Linked DNA regions of Homo sapiens. The protein of the gene in region 3 interacts with the protein of the main gene of each other region in a biochemical or structural test. Each region holds a gene or a part of one and is shown on either strand. Other genes may lie near its edges.

What was found. Proteins that work in one complex are often made in the same cells at the same time.
Region 1: the proteins of SCN8A (region 3) and LDB3 interact in a test that uses a peptide from one of them, tested with the Homo sapiens proteins (one large-scale study listed by IntAct).
Region 2: the proteins of SCN8A (region 3) and SHANK1 interact in a test that uses a peptide from one of them, tested with the Homo sapiens proteins (one large-scale study listed by IntAct).
Region 4: the proteins of SCN8A (region 3) and FRMPD2 interact in a test that uses a peptide from one of them, tested with the Homo sapiens proteins (one large-scale study listed by IntAct).

The regions. Positions count from the first base shown.
Region 1 is NC_000010.11:86,671,511-86,675,010, forward strand, and holds part of LDB3 (LIM domain-binding protein 3), read left to right. Parts: intron 1-3,500. UniProt on the Homo sapiens protein: May function as an adapter in striated muscle to couple protein kinase C-mediated signaling via its LIM domains to the cytoskeleton.
Region 2 is NC_000019.10:50,713,303-50,716,802, reverse strand, and holds part of SHANK1 (SH3 and multiple ankyrin repeat domains protein 1), read left to right. Parts: coding exon 1-138; intron 139-324; coding exon 325-528; intron 529-1,072; coding exon 1,073-1,144; intron 1,145-2,512; coding exon 2,513-2,621; intron 2,622-2,853; coding exon 2,854-3,005; intron 3,006-3,500. UniProt on the Homo sapiens protein: Seems to be an adapter protein in the postsynaptic density (PSD) of excitatory synapses that interconnects receptors of the postsynaptic membrane including NMDA-type and metabotropic glutamate receptors via complexes with GKAP/PSD-95 and Homer, respectively, and the actin-based cytoskeleton.
Region 3 is NC_000012.12:51,597,733-51,601,232, reverse strand, and holds part of SCN8A (sodium channel protein type 8 subunit alpha), read right to left. Parts: intron 1-3,500. UniProt on the Homo sapiens protein: Pore-forming subunit of a voltage-gated sodium channel complex assuming opened or closed conformations in response to the voltage difference across membranes and through which sodium ions selectively pass along their electrochemical gradient.
Region 4 is NC_000010.11:48,236,697-48,240,196, reverse strand, and holds part of FRMPD2 (FERM and PDZ domain-containing protein 2), read left to right. Parts: intron 1-504; coding exon 505-592; intron 593-2,073; coding exon 2,074-2,206; intron 2,207-3,500.

The DNA.
Region 1 (3,500 bases), on a different chromosome or scaffold from region 3:
GGAAATGCCTTTATTTATCCTGGACAGGTGTGGCTGGGCCTGCAACATGAGCTGCCCTTTCACCCCACCCCAGCCAGTTCTCCAGGAAGTGGAGAAGGGGGAGCAGCCCAGAGAGGGAGCAGCTCCAAAGGCCTCTGCCCTGGCAGCTGGCCAGAGGCTGGGGCTGTGGTCTGGGGTCTCACCTCTTCATGCCTCTCATGCCTCCGCCTTGGGGAAGAGGAGTATGCTTTGTTAGGCTCTGCTGCTCTCAGCTGTGTCACCTCAGAAGTCTGTTTACCTGCTCGGCCTCAGTTTTTCTCACCCTTAAAATGGGGATAGCAGGCTGGGCGCGGTGCCTCATGCCTGTAATCCCAGCACTTTGGGAGGCCGAGGGGGCAGACCACTTGAGGTCAGGAGTTTGAGACCAGCCTGGCCAACATGGTGAAACCCTGTCTCCACTAAAAATACAAAAATTAGCCAGGTGTGGTGGTACATGCTTGTGATCCCAGCTACTCAAGAGGCTGAGGCAGGAGAACAGCTTGAACCCAGGAGGCAGAGGTTGCAGTGAGCTGAGATCGCACCACTGCACTCCATTCTGGGGGCAGAGTGAGACTCCATCTTAAAAATAAATAAATAAATAAACAAATAAAATGATGCCTTCCACACCTGTGAGAGCTCTTTCTAACAGGCACTTGTGAAAACTTTCCACCTGTTGTCTACTGGGACTGGTTGTGAGACTGGTGGAGTCGGGGGCTGAGCCTGGGCCCAGGAGGGGCCTGCCTGTCTACTGGAAACCCTCTCTTCCTAGGGTCTCAGCCACCCCGCCTGCAGGCTCACCTGGAGCACCAGCTCAGAGGCCTCTTCTCTGTGGGTTTCGGTTCCAGTATTTATCAGACTCTCCCAGCTGTGGTGGGAACATGCTGAGGACAGAGGGTCTCTGGGGAGAGGAAGGGGGACAGGCTGAGACTATTCTGGGGTAGCTGTGCCGGCAATTCCTGGAATTTCGGGGCCGCTGGAGCACGCAGTGCTGTTTCTTGGGCAGCTCTTAGCAGTGCTGACAGGCCGTGCTGTTTATAGCCGCACTGAAGGTCAGGCAAGCCTCCGAGGGCTTCAGTGGGGCTGGCAGGGGCCTCCCTGCAACATCTATCAACAGGGGAAGATAAACGGCCAGAGGCTCAGAGGCTCACAGCTGGGGAATGCATTCTTAGAGGTCCCCCAGGCCAGGTCCTCCGGGCTGCTCAGAACTGCATCTAACTCTGTGAGGGATCCAAAAGGAGAGGACATGAGGCTGGCTGGGTCCTGGGGAATGAATTGGACCCTTGGAGGCCCCTGGGCCAGGACACCGTGCAAGGGCAGCTGCATAAGCAGCCCCAGGGCTCCGGGCCTACAGATATTGTGGGGTAGCCAGTGTCAGGACTGCAGGGCTGTTTGAGAAAGGCTGGGCCAGGCTCTGCTGGGGGCTAGCTCCCCAATTCCCTGAGTCTCCTTCCCTTTCTGCATGGTCCCCTCTCATCCAGAGGCTGCCCCTGACTGCAAAGACCCTCCTCTACACTGAGCCCTCCCACCCCCAAACACAGCTTTGGCACCCCTTTGGGACCAGGCTCCACCTCTGCCCAGGAACCATCCTTGGACACAAGAATGGGCCTTGCTGGGGGCCCTTGAGAGCCAGTGCCCATGAGGGCATTTTATTGGCCACACCCAAGACCCAAATGGAACTGTGGACCTGGACAGGAGGAAGAGAGGCAGGAGAGACTCAAGAGACACTTGAGGAAAGCCAGGGGAGGTGTGGTCAGCTACAGAGGGGGCAGTGACCCGTGGCTTTGGACACAGAAGGTCATTGATATGCGTGGAATAATGGGGCCAAAGGCAGACGGCTGTGTGTGAGCAGGTGGGAGGCAGCGGCAGTGGGGGCAGGATGTGTGGGTCACTTCTTGGAGGAGTCTGGAGGTGCAGAAAGGAGACATGACAGGAGCCAGTTGGAGCCACCCAGGCAGGCAGGGAGAGGCTTTTTGAGCATTGAGGGGACTCCGGCTTATTTATCGGCCAGGGTGGAGTTGGGGAGTGGGACCATGGGGAGACAGAAGGTTCCAGTGAGAGGGTGAGCATGAGCAAAGCCCCAGGGGAGGCCAGATGGGAAGGCAGCAGAGCAGGACAAGACAGTAATTTAATCATACAATGAAAATGCACTTTGTCCCACCTGCCCCAACCCAGGCAGGCAGCCTGGGAGTGTGGGGAGGGGGAGCTGCTGAAACTTGTACCCTTCCTACTTATCTGCCACCTGCCCCAGCCTCCACCCACCACATCTACACTGGCACATCTAGAAGAGGAGGAAGGCAGGGGCCTGCCTGGTTTGAACACCGGGAGTGAATGATGGCCAGAAACGTCTGCAGAGCCCAGCTGCTCTCTCTGCTGCCAGGGAACTGGGAAAATAGGAGCCAATGGCATGGGTGCGTCTGAAGCCTCACTGGTGCCTTCTTTCCCCTGGGCCTTGGACAGAAGTTTCCTCCCCTCCCCCCAACACCCAGGCCCCTCTAGGGACAGCAGGCTGGCTCAGAACTGGTCAGTCAGGGCTGGCTCCTCAAGCTCCACCCTCTGCCAGCTGTGGATCTTGTTTCCTGTGGAGCCCGGGGATGTAGCCAGCCAGCCTCACACCTTCTGGGGGTAGCAGATGGGGTCAGCACTGTGCCTCCTGGATTTGGAGTTTTCCTGAAACTCTCTCAGCTCTGCACCCTCCTTACATAATCCCCTGTTTAACGACATAATCCTCACAACAATCCCGAGAAAGGCATTGTCATTCTCTTGACACTGGAGGGCTTGGAGGCTGGCACCGAAGTCAGGGGCCCGGCCCATACTGGCACCTGTGCTCCTCCTTTGCTGCCTCCCCGCCCCCAGCCCCCAGCACTCACAAGTGGCTCTGGCACCAGCTCTCCCTGGGCTGCCCTTGGAAGTGCCCTAAGACCTTGGCCCAGCAAGGCGGAAGGGCTCCTGGGGGCAGGGAGCTGATCTTGGCCTCCAAACACCTGCAGCCTTTCTTGGGGGCTTTGGAGACAGGAGCTCGGTGCCCCACCCTGAGGCCATTCTAGGCTGCACCCAGGGTTGGGTTTCCAGGGTTTAGAGGGGCCCATTGGCGGGAGAAGACTGAAATGTGAAGTGGGAATGAAACACTCATTCAAGGGAGGCATTTAAATGCTCAAAGGCGGCTAGAAAGATTAAAAAGAAAAAACCACAGCTCCAAGGAGTTGGGTGCTTTGGGCCCTTTCTGAAACACAGAAAGGAAAGAGGAGGATGGAGTCAGACAAGACAGACGTGGAAGCATCGTGCCTGGACTGCACTCTCCATGAGCCCTGGACTCTGGGCAAGGGTCTGAGGGTGCCCCCCTCCAACCCACCCAGGCAGGCTGCTCCTGAGGTGGGGTGAAGGCATCCGATGGCTCCTGATCATCCATAGGGTCCCTGCCTCCATCCTGCCTGAAGCACCTCCCTAGAGGAGGATATCAGCACCCCCAGCCCCCACCCTGAGGG
Region 2 (3,500 bases), on a different chromosome or scaffold from region 3:
ACCCGGGGCCAGGGCAGTGGGGCACCTGGTAGCCTGGCCTCTGTTAGAGGCCTCCAGGGCCGCTCAATGTCCGTCCCAGACGACGCCCACTTCAGCATGATGGTCTTCAGGATTGGCATCCCGGACCTGCACCAGACAGTGAGTACCTGCCCACTGGCCAGCGGCAGGAGAGGGACAGTGCCCCAACCGACATGGGGAGTCCACTGGTGCTGGGTATCCTCCCAGGAATCACCCCCACACTCAGCTCCTGGCTCACTTCCCAACCCACCTCAGGCTCTCCTCTGGCCCCTGGCCCACCCTAGCCCCTATCTCTTCCCCAACCAGAAATGCCTTCGCTTCAACCCCGATGCCACCATCTGGACGGCCAAGCAGCAGGTGCTCTGTGCCCTGAGCGAGAGCCTGCAGGATGTGCTCAACTATGGCCTGTTCCAACCGGCCACCTCCGGCCGCGATGCCAACTTCCTGGAGGAGGAGAGGCTGCTGCGGGAGTACCCCCAGTCCTTTGAGAAGGGGGTCCCCTACCTGGAGGTGAAGCTTCCCCAACTCCTTCACTGATAAGAGAAGGCATGCCCTAAAACACATCTGCCCCCCACCCACTTTTTAACACACTCGAAACCTTAACGAGGGGGCACCCAGTGTGCGAGTCCAGACCTTCTAAGCATCACAGGGAAGTCAGAGAGTCCTGAGTTCAAATTACCATCTGTTCTGCTTCTGACCAGCTAAGTGGCCTTGGCCAAGTCACTTTCCTGCCCCAAGCTTCTCCTCACCCATCAAATTGGGGGAGGATTCCCAATTACAGTAGGCACTCTAGAACATTCCCTGTGGGGTCCAGACTCCTCCTCCTTCAAGGCAGGGGTTGCAGTGCACATATACCATAATACCCAGCACTGTCGGAAAAGCCACTGCCACCCATCTACCGCCTAGACCAAGGTTCCAGGGCTGTTTTCACTCCCACCCTGAGCTACCCCGGGGAATTAGAAGGGGATCAGACCTTCCCCTACCCCAAGCCTTCTCCCCAGGCCCCTGATTCCAAGTCTCTGTGTCTCTCTCACTACCCTACCCTTGACCTCAGTTCCGATACAAGACCCGAGTTTACAAACAGACCAACCTGGATGAGAAGCAGCTGGCCAAGTTGCACACGAAGGTGAGAAAACCCTGCTGGCATCTATCCCCTATAGCCCCCTACCACTGGAGCCCCCTACCCAACCACTTTCTCTCCCCACCTCTTCCCAATAGACCTCCACATTCCCCAAGCCAGCGATCCCTCTGGCCACTGCCCCCGCTTAACTTGGGATGCTGTACCACATTTGAGACAACCACAAATACCCCCCATTATCCCCATCACAACCCCTTCTTACTTTCCTCTTTTGCCCTTCATCCCTCTGCCTGGGCCCACATCATTCCCACCTGGCCTCCTTTGAGTCTCCCTTCTCTTCCCCTGCCTCCCCCCATATCCATCCAAGGCCTCTTTACTTCCCCACCTTGGCCTAGGACCCTGACACTGAAGGTCCTTCTGCCTAGAGTCTATTTCAAAGACAGGCTACATTTCTCCCAACCTCATAGCCTGAATCTCTGCAAAATCCAACCATTACACCCCCCTTTCCAGCCATATCTGTCCTCCTGGTACCTTGCCCGCCAGTCCTCAGCCCCTGTCTGTCCTGTGTCTCGATGGTGAGAGCTGGGAGGAAATCGGGAACTGCTTTGGTCAGAAATGAAGAACTCTTGATCCTTGAGAAGGAAAAACTCCCAGTCCCTCCTTGTCTACCCTCTCCCCACCACAGCATGCATTGAACTCTTTCCTCCCCTAAATGTTCCATCCCTCCAGACTTTCACGGTCCACTTTGGGAACCACTGGCCAAGTGTGGCTCCTGAGTGCTTGCAGTGTGTTTGGTCCCAACTAAGACTCGCTGTGAGTGTGAAATACACACTGGGTTTCAAAGACTTAGTACCAAAAAAAAGTTAAATAACCTCATTAATAATTTTCATCTCAATTACCTGTTGAAACAGTAACATTGTAGCTATATCAGTTAAATAACATATATCATTAACACGAATTTCAACACAACTAACACTTCACCCCCAACCACCCTGATTTTTTTTTTTTTTTTTTTTGAGACGGGGTCTTGCTCTGTCACCCGGGCTGCAGTGGTGCAATCATGGCTCACTGCAGCCTCAACCTTTCAGGGTTCAAAGGATCCTTCCAGCTCAGCCTCCCGAGTAGCTGGGACTACAGGCGTGTGCCACCACAACCTGGCTAGTTTTTTGCATTTTTTGTAGAGATAAGGGTCTCACTTTGTTGCTCAGGCTGGTCTCGAACCCCTGGGCCCAAGTGATCCTCCCGCCTCGGCCTCCCAAAGGGCTGGGTATTTTCTCTGTAAAGGAGGCTGCTAGAAGCTTTTCAATGGCGTATGTGACTCCACGTATATTTTCACTGGACGTCGCTGCTTGAGGACCCTGCTTCTCTGCCTTGCTCCTGACTGTCCTGTCTTCTCTCTCTTTGCCCATGGCTCAGACGGGGTTGAAGAAGTTCCTGGAGTATGTGCAGCTCGGGACATCTGACAAGGTGGCGCGGCTGCTGGACAAGGGGCTGGACCCCAATTACCATGACTCGGATTCGGGAGGTAGGGAGGGGTGCGCATCAGGAGGACCTCAGGGCCAGGACAGAGCTGGGGAGCAGGGGTGCCATCTGCATTCACATCCATTCCTGACTGGTGTCTCCCAAACACATTGCTGTCCAAGGGGGAGGCCACGGGGCCAGAGGCTGTGGGGTGGAGAGCTGCAGAGCCTGGAAAATGGGAAGGGATGGAGGGGAGGAGAAGGGGCTTCATGTGACCAGCTTTTCCCGCCCTTCAGAGACCCCCTTGACACTGGCGGCCCAGACCGAAGGCTCTGTAGAGGTGATTCGAACCCTGTGCCTGGGCGGGGCCCACATTGACTTCCGGGCCCGGGATGGCATGACCGCACTGCATAAGGCCGCATGCGCCCGACACTGCCTGGCACTCACGGTGAGGCTTCGGGGACCCCCCATCCCCGCCATGGGGCCCTCTCTCCTTTTCCCTTTGTTCTTTCTCAAACCTCAGTTCTTTGGTTTCAGTTAAAAATAGGCCCTCTCATGTCCCCAGTTCAAAGCCCCTTTCCATAGACTGAGACACAGCCCCTATTGTCACCCTTGTCAGGCCCCCCAGATGCACCCACCTGGGCTATAGCTGACATCACACAGACCCGGGCACGGCCTCCTCCCCTAAACACCCAGAACGTCTCCATCCCCTGTGGCCCAGCTTAATACCAAATCTGCCTCTGTCTCCCCAAGGTGTAAACCCTTCTCATTCCTTAAAATACGAAGTGAGCTCCCTGCTATGCCCCCAGATAGAGCCCCTCCACACACACCCTGAAAACAGCCCCCCAGCTACCCTTCCAAACCAGCACTGCACCAGCTCCCCTCCCTCCTCTCTCACATGCAAATACAGCCCCTTCCCCACGTACACAGCCTCAAATGCACT
Region 3 (3,500 bases):
CTTGCATGAGAACATCCAGATGAATAAAACAGATTGCCATCATTCAGTTAAGTGGTGTTTATGGACTTTCCTCATCCCAGGCTACCTTAAGAATGCCTTTCCAAGAGACTATTGTATAACAGTTCTTAATTACTGTTACTTTGAGCATTCAAACTAGGAGAAAGGTATGCACTTATAATGGGATTGCACAGAGAATCTCCTAATAGAATTACTGTAAGGGTAATTTGGGTAATACCCTAAATAGAGTGCTAAATTTATTAACATCTTGTACATGAACTGTGCCTGCTCTACTGGTTCCACAGCAAACCATGGGGACTTCTGCCAAATGTCTGAGTGCAAACTGTGGTAAATGTAATGGAATTTGCAAGAACTCAGTAACTTTCGTGGTGAGAAGAAATATAATTTTAACAAATTAAATGAGATTTAAAAATTGCATTAAATTTCTAATTTTTTTTCTCTTGGTGTATTCTATTATTTTGATGTCCATGTTCTGATAATCTAGTAACCCTTTATTTTTTCTCATTCAATGATCATTTCTGACGAGAAAGGGCAGTAGCAGAACCCAAGCTCCCTGAGTTCTGCCTTTGCTCTAAGTTACCACTGTATACTCAAGTTGTACGTTAGGGCCCTCTGGCCACCGTCTTGTACCCCAGCTATACCAAGAAGATCATGCAAGTCAAGTCTGACATTTTTCATACACGGCCTAAGATTCAGTACCTGAAACAGAAAGCAACATCACTGGCTGATAAGGCCTTTTCTTTCCCTCTGCTTTCACCTACTAAAATCCTTTCAGTTACTACCTTTAACTCAGCCTGCAATTTCAAATAGTATGGCTGTCATGAAGCACATGGGATATAAACAAACAATCAAAAAATCAAATATACTGAGTTTCGGTAAGGACAAAAGAGTCATTTACCAAGTCTATAAAAAGGTATAGAATTCTTGTTCCTTTATCCTCCAAACTGAAGGTGAGTTGAGAATGCCAACGAAAATGACAAGTTAAGTGTCTATGAATGGACAGAATGTAAAACTCCAAAACAAGGGTAGAGACCCACAAACGAAGATTAAATAATCTTTATCAGTGAGAGCTTAGATAATAAAGTTCAGAAGATTCAAGTTTTCCTACAAGAAATAACATTAAAAGCTCAAGAAAACCCTCTGCAGAGAAACAATTAGAAAATTAGAAATAAAGACAGCTTGTTAACCAAAATGCTATGGACCAGACTACCATGGATTACAGAACATACTTCCCCAGATTTTCAAAATAGGAGACTCTCTATCTCTAATCTTTAAAACAGTAAAATAATCTTTATTCCCTCTCCCTTTTCTCCCATGTAAAGTCATTCACTGAGTTCTACTGAGTCTTCCTATAAACTATTTCTAACATTAGAAAAACGTTAAACACACACATTCATGTAACACACATATACAAAGTTATATTTACTTTCCTTCCTTCCCATCCTTATAACCACTACACTACTCCAACCCTTCATCACTACACAGCTGGGACAAATCAAAGAGCCAACTAAGTGGATGTCCATTCCTTGCTCTATTCCATCCAATTAGACACTGCTGCCCAATATTCCTAAAACACTACAGTATAGCTTTGATCATCTGTCATTCTATACTCTCTAAATTCTACATTCTCCATGTTATGAATGAAACTTCAAAAAGTCCTTAATATTTGGCTAACTCTATCCTATCTTTGCAGGCTTATCTGCCACAAGGAGATTCTCACTGCTCCCCCAAAACACTTTGTACATTCTTGCCTTCTCACTTTGGCTCACACTGTTCTACCCAACCATTCTGTAAAGCCCAGCTCAAATCATGCTTCTTCCATCAACCTGTCTCTAATCATACCAACTTGAAATGCTCTCTCTTTCCTAAAAAATCAATTTATTAACTATACCATTTATTTAGCAATAAATCCTTTCCAACTTTTTAATCATCAACCATTATGAAAATCTTTTCTTATTTAACATTTTGTGTTTATGACTTATTTCACAAAATAAATAAGCTCCTAGAACATAAGGTCTATCTTTTATATATCCCATAGTTGCTACTCGCTAAATATTTGTTGACTGATGTGGTCAAGCAGGCGATTTAGAATTCACTCATAGACAGCAATGAACCAATAGTTCTCAAGGTTATGTCTCCCCCTGCACTTTTATTTTTAACAGGTAATTCTATAAGGAAAACCCTAAAAGCAATGTAGGTTAGTAGGAAAGGCTGCTTCAGCCCAAACTAACTTGCACATTAAATAAGCCAAGAAATTAGAATATAAATTTTACTAAGAAAAATAAAACAGAGGCATTATGTATTTCTTAAGGAAAAGGGGTAACTAACTGATCTAAGATGATCTAGAATGAGAATCCAAATCCTCAAATTATTTTAAGTCTTCCTTAAAAGACAATGGAACTAACTGTGAGGAGCAGGGGGAGACAATATGTATATGTGCATGTATGTATGCAGGAAGCATTACAAGAGAAATTAGTAACAGTAATTGCTATTATGGAGTGCATACTGCATGACTGGGAGACAGTAAAAGAAGACTTAACTTCGAACTTTTTGATTTTTGAATTTTGTGCCTCTGTTAAATATTCAAACAAACATTTCAAGACAATGGAAGAGAAACTGTCAACAGAGCCTTCTGAGAAAATGTTTTTGTATTAAATGACTAAAAATCAAGAGGAAATGAAAGAAACGTTTAAGAATATTACATTTTTTTCCATAAAGCAAGAAAATATTCTCCAGTTTTCTCAATGCAGAGATCAGATAAAGAAAGCAATTTGCAGCAAAGTTCTAGCAGAGCTAAGAATAAAATAAAACTAAACAACAACAACAAAAACCACCTTCCCAAGGTTCTGTGCCCTGTCCAGCAGATGAGGATCTGGTTCAGTAATACGGAGGTGTACCCAAAGGAATTGTTGGAGGGGAGTGAATACCTACTCTTAAAATATGAGCAGTTCCCCACGTTCACATCCAAATCCCCTTGCCCATTTTCACTCTGTCATTCACCTTCTTTTGCTTTCTCCCTATGATGATTCGTCACACTCCAAACACTTTCTTCCCTCCCTATCACAATACTCATCTTAAAAAATGACTAATTATCTTCAAGACATCTTTCCTACAAACAAGGCATTATGCCTCTTTAGAGTATTCACCAAATCACAGGAAATCCAATTGAGAAATCTGTAGCAAATGTGATTTCTGGGTATTCTGACCTCTGAGAATGCCCTATCAGTCTCATTTGCAACCTGCTTGATTTTTTTCCTGCAATTTAATAATGCATTAATTTTTTTCACTTAAAAGCATTCAGCTTCCTGCTAAGACAAAAAAACAGTAGTGAATGTAACACAAAAGCCTGTTGCATTATCCTTAATTGAGGAATTAATCCTGAAACAAGGAGCTAAATATATAATAAATTAAGCCCTACTTGTTTACAGGGTTGTTGCTCACTAAAATGAAAGAAAAATGCTATTTACACCAGCTTGCAGTGG
Region 4 (3,500 bases), on a different chromosome or scaffold from region 3:
ACCTGTGTTCCCAGGAAAGTCTTATTTGGGGACACAACACAGTTATTTATATCAAATGAAAACTTTAAAAATGAGTTCTAACTGTCCAAGTTGAGAAAATCCAAATTGAAACAAACAACAAGAAAAGAAAAACTTGATTTTTTTTTCAGTTATTGTTCTGGGTGTGTTAAAAGAGTGGTTTTTGGAATAATCTTCAAATCTACTGTTCTCTACTTTTCAACTAAATCTGAGCTTTTTTTAAAAAAATTAATGTTATTGTTTGTTGTCTCTAAAACAAAGTGCACTTTGCCATTAGGCTTTATCTTCCCTTGTAACCCTCCCTCCAACCCTCTGTAACTGTCATTTCTGTTTTCTACATGAGGAAACAGATTCAGAGAGGCTAAGGAATTTCACCAAGGTCACACAGCTAGTAAGTCATGATGCCATTCATGCTCTGAGATGCCTGATTTAAGAAAGCCGTGATCTTGGCTTCTGCCCATACCCTCTACCATGCTGCTTGATTAGTTTCAGAAAGAAGCACGGAGACCCAGAGCTCACCAGAGCCCCATTGGAGCACCTTGACACACAGTCACTGCAGCCTCCTTGTTAACCGGTAAGCAGCAAGGCCTAAAGGGTGCTGTGAACTTGATGTGAGACATAGGTGTGGGGGCTATGGTACCTTATTTCTTTACTGATTATTAGTAAGAAGCCTCTTGCTCCTCCAGAAAATGCCAATGCTATTCCATTAACAGATGAAGAAGCCACATTTAAGCAGATCCGAAGCCAAGATAATGAGGGGCCTGGTGGCAGCTGTGCTGTCAGGGCATCCTGTTTCCTCTGGGAACCATACTCAGGCCGAGTGGCGGAGCAACAACATGCCTCAATATTGTTGCCATTATCCATTGCCATACCATGCTGCATAACAAGCAACCACAAAACACAGTGGCTAAAAGCAACAATTATGAATTTAGCTCATGATTCTGTGAGTTGGTCATTTAGGCTGTGCTCAGCTGGGAGGTCTTCTAGACTCTGCTGAAAGCCTTCCTGCCTTTTTGACTGTCTTCGGCTCGGCTATCCAGCTTCTCCTGCGGGGTGAATGGCCATTGTCTGGGAAGCTCTGGCTCTCCTCCACCAGCAGGTCAGCCTAGGATTGTTCTCGTGACAATGGCAGAACTGACAGAGAGGAACTGAGAGAGAGAGAGAGAGACAGAGAGACAGAGAGAAAGAGGAGAGAGAGGAGAGAGGACGGCAAGGTGCATAAAGCCTTCAGAACTGGTCTTCCATCATTTCCACTTCATTCTGTTGGCCATATCAGGCCTAAAGGCCAGCCCCATTTCAAGGAGTAAGAAATAGACTCCATCTCTTGATGGCAGGAGGCTGCAAAGTCGGATTGCAAAGGGTGCAGATCAGGGAGAAGAACTGTGGACATTTTTGCAATTGTCTAACTTAGGATGCTTGAATCAGATCAAAACCTAGATGGGCTCATATCTTCCTGGACCTGGAACGGTGTTTATTTTGAAGTTTGGGTGATTTATTTATTCACATGGTGACCTGTTGAGGGCTGTAACAGTGTCTTGTCATAGTTGATGTCAAATCCACAGCTGACGCCCTGATTGGATATCGTAGAGTTTATCTTGCAATACTTTTTCCTGCCATTTAAAACTTTATTTTCCCAATGAAAACAATTTTTACCCCCTGATTCCTTAAACAATATATTTTATTGTCAAAATATTTTGAACAACATATCAAATTCTAAAGAAGCCAGAACTGCTGCAGTCCCATGACCTGCTGGGTGGTTGCTCTAGACCTGGGGTCCTGGCACCACAAACAGAGAGGTAAAGCCATGGGGTGGAGAAGTCGACTGTGCCTTGTACCTCCAACCCCACCCCACCCCAGTGGCTGTGCAGCCTGGCTTCTCCAGGCCTCAGCTTCCCCCACTTGAAAAATGGATATAACTCCCCCATAGGTGGGGGAGAAGGTGACATGCATCAGTGGGTGCACCCTGCCCAACTGAGCCCCTGTGCGGGTGGTCTTTCATGCCATGGAAGCCCTTGCCATTGCTAAGTGCTTCACCCCTTCTCAACCCCTGGCCAGCGCTCTTCCAGGAGCAGATCCCCAGGACCAGCAGGCGGGCCGGAGGCTCAGCTCTGGATCTGTGCACTCGGCAGCAGACAGCTCATGGCCAACAACTCCTTCTCAGAGGGGTTTTCTGCAAAGAAGGAGCAAGGTAAGCAAAATAAGGCTGAAGGACACTCCTCAAGGAGGCTTGAGCAGGGAGCTGTGGGTGGCTGGCACGGTGGCTGAAAATGGGCAGGGTCTTCTAGGGGACAACTTCCCTGGGCTGAGGTTTATAGGATTGGACTAACATAAACCTGAAATTTGCAACTTAGGGCATAGGCATTCACTGAGTAGCCTCACTGGGGAAGGCTCTATGGGGGACGCTGTATAAGATGTAGGGTTAAAGATGCTGGGTCCCACCCTAGAGGAAGCCACCGGTGCGCAGGGTGGTGGCAGAGCGTGCTACATGATTCGAGAACTGACAAGGCAGAATGTGTTTGGAAGGGGCCTTCTGCACAGGTGAAAGGTGGGAGCATAGATCCAGGGCCGCAGGGAGGGCTTCTATAGGGAGGAGAGAGTTATCCTTCCAGCTGGCTAACCCTAAGAGGGTAATAGGGTTAGGCGGAATGTGCCTGTCTGTCTGTCAAAGTTAGTTAAGGTCCCTTGACTGAGCTGAGCTCCAAATAGCCTCAGGATGTCCCTCTTCCTGTTTGGCCTATGGTTCCCATACGCTGGCCTGGCCCGCACTGTCCTCCTTGGCCCTTCTCTGGCCTCCATGAACTTGGTGGAGGGCGTGAAGAGGGCTTCTGAGAGGCTTTGTCCACCTCCTTTGGCTTTTCTTCCTGATCACTCACTAGAGATACTTCTATTGGGAACTCTTGCAGGACACAAGTCACTTCTGGGCTGGAATTTTGGCCTCTTGGGACAAGAGTCCTGCTAGGTACCCTTGGGGGCACTATAGAAGCCCTACCCAACCCTATCTCTTGCTGGTTATATGACTCAGGTGAGCTTCTTAAGCTTTTTTTTTTTTTTTTAAAGGTGAGGAGCCTCAACTTCCTCACCTGTAAAATGGGTTGAGAATATGCACCCCACAGGGGGATAGCTGGGTCTAGCTAGTGATGGGTATTGCAGTGTTTTCTGGGTCAAGTGTAATACAAACACACTGAGAACAAGAGGTGCCCACTAAGCTATTGATTCAACATCTAGAGCTAGAAAACATTTCAGCTCATCTAAATCTAAAAGTATTTTTGTTTTTTCAAGTATTTTTATTGCATTTATATTTATATTATACATTTTATACTTTTGATACATACAAAAGATGGAGTTCTGTGTAAATTATGAAACTTATAATTCACCCCGAACACCCCTGTACCCAACTTAAGAGCCAGAATGTTGCTGATACCCTATACCCACCTGTAAGACTTCTGCTCCAAGATGTACCATTCAGCTGGGGCCTCAGCCCA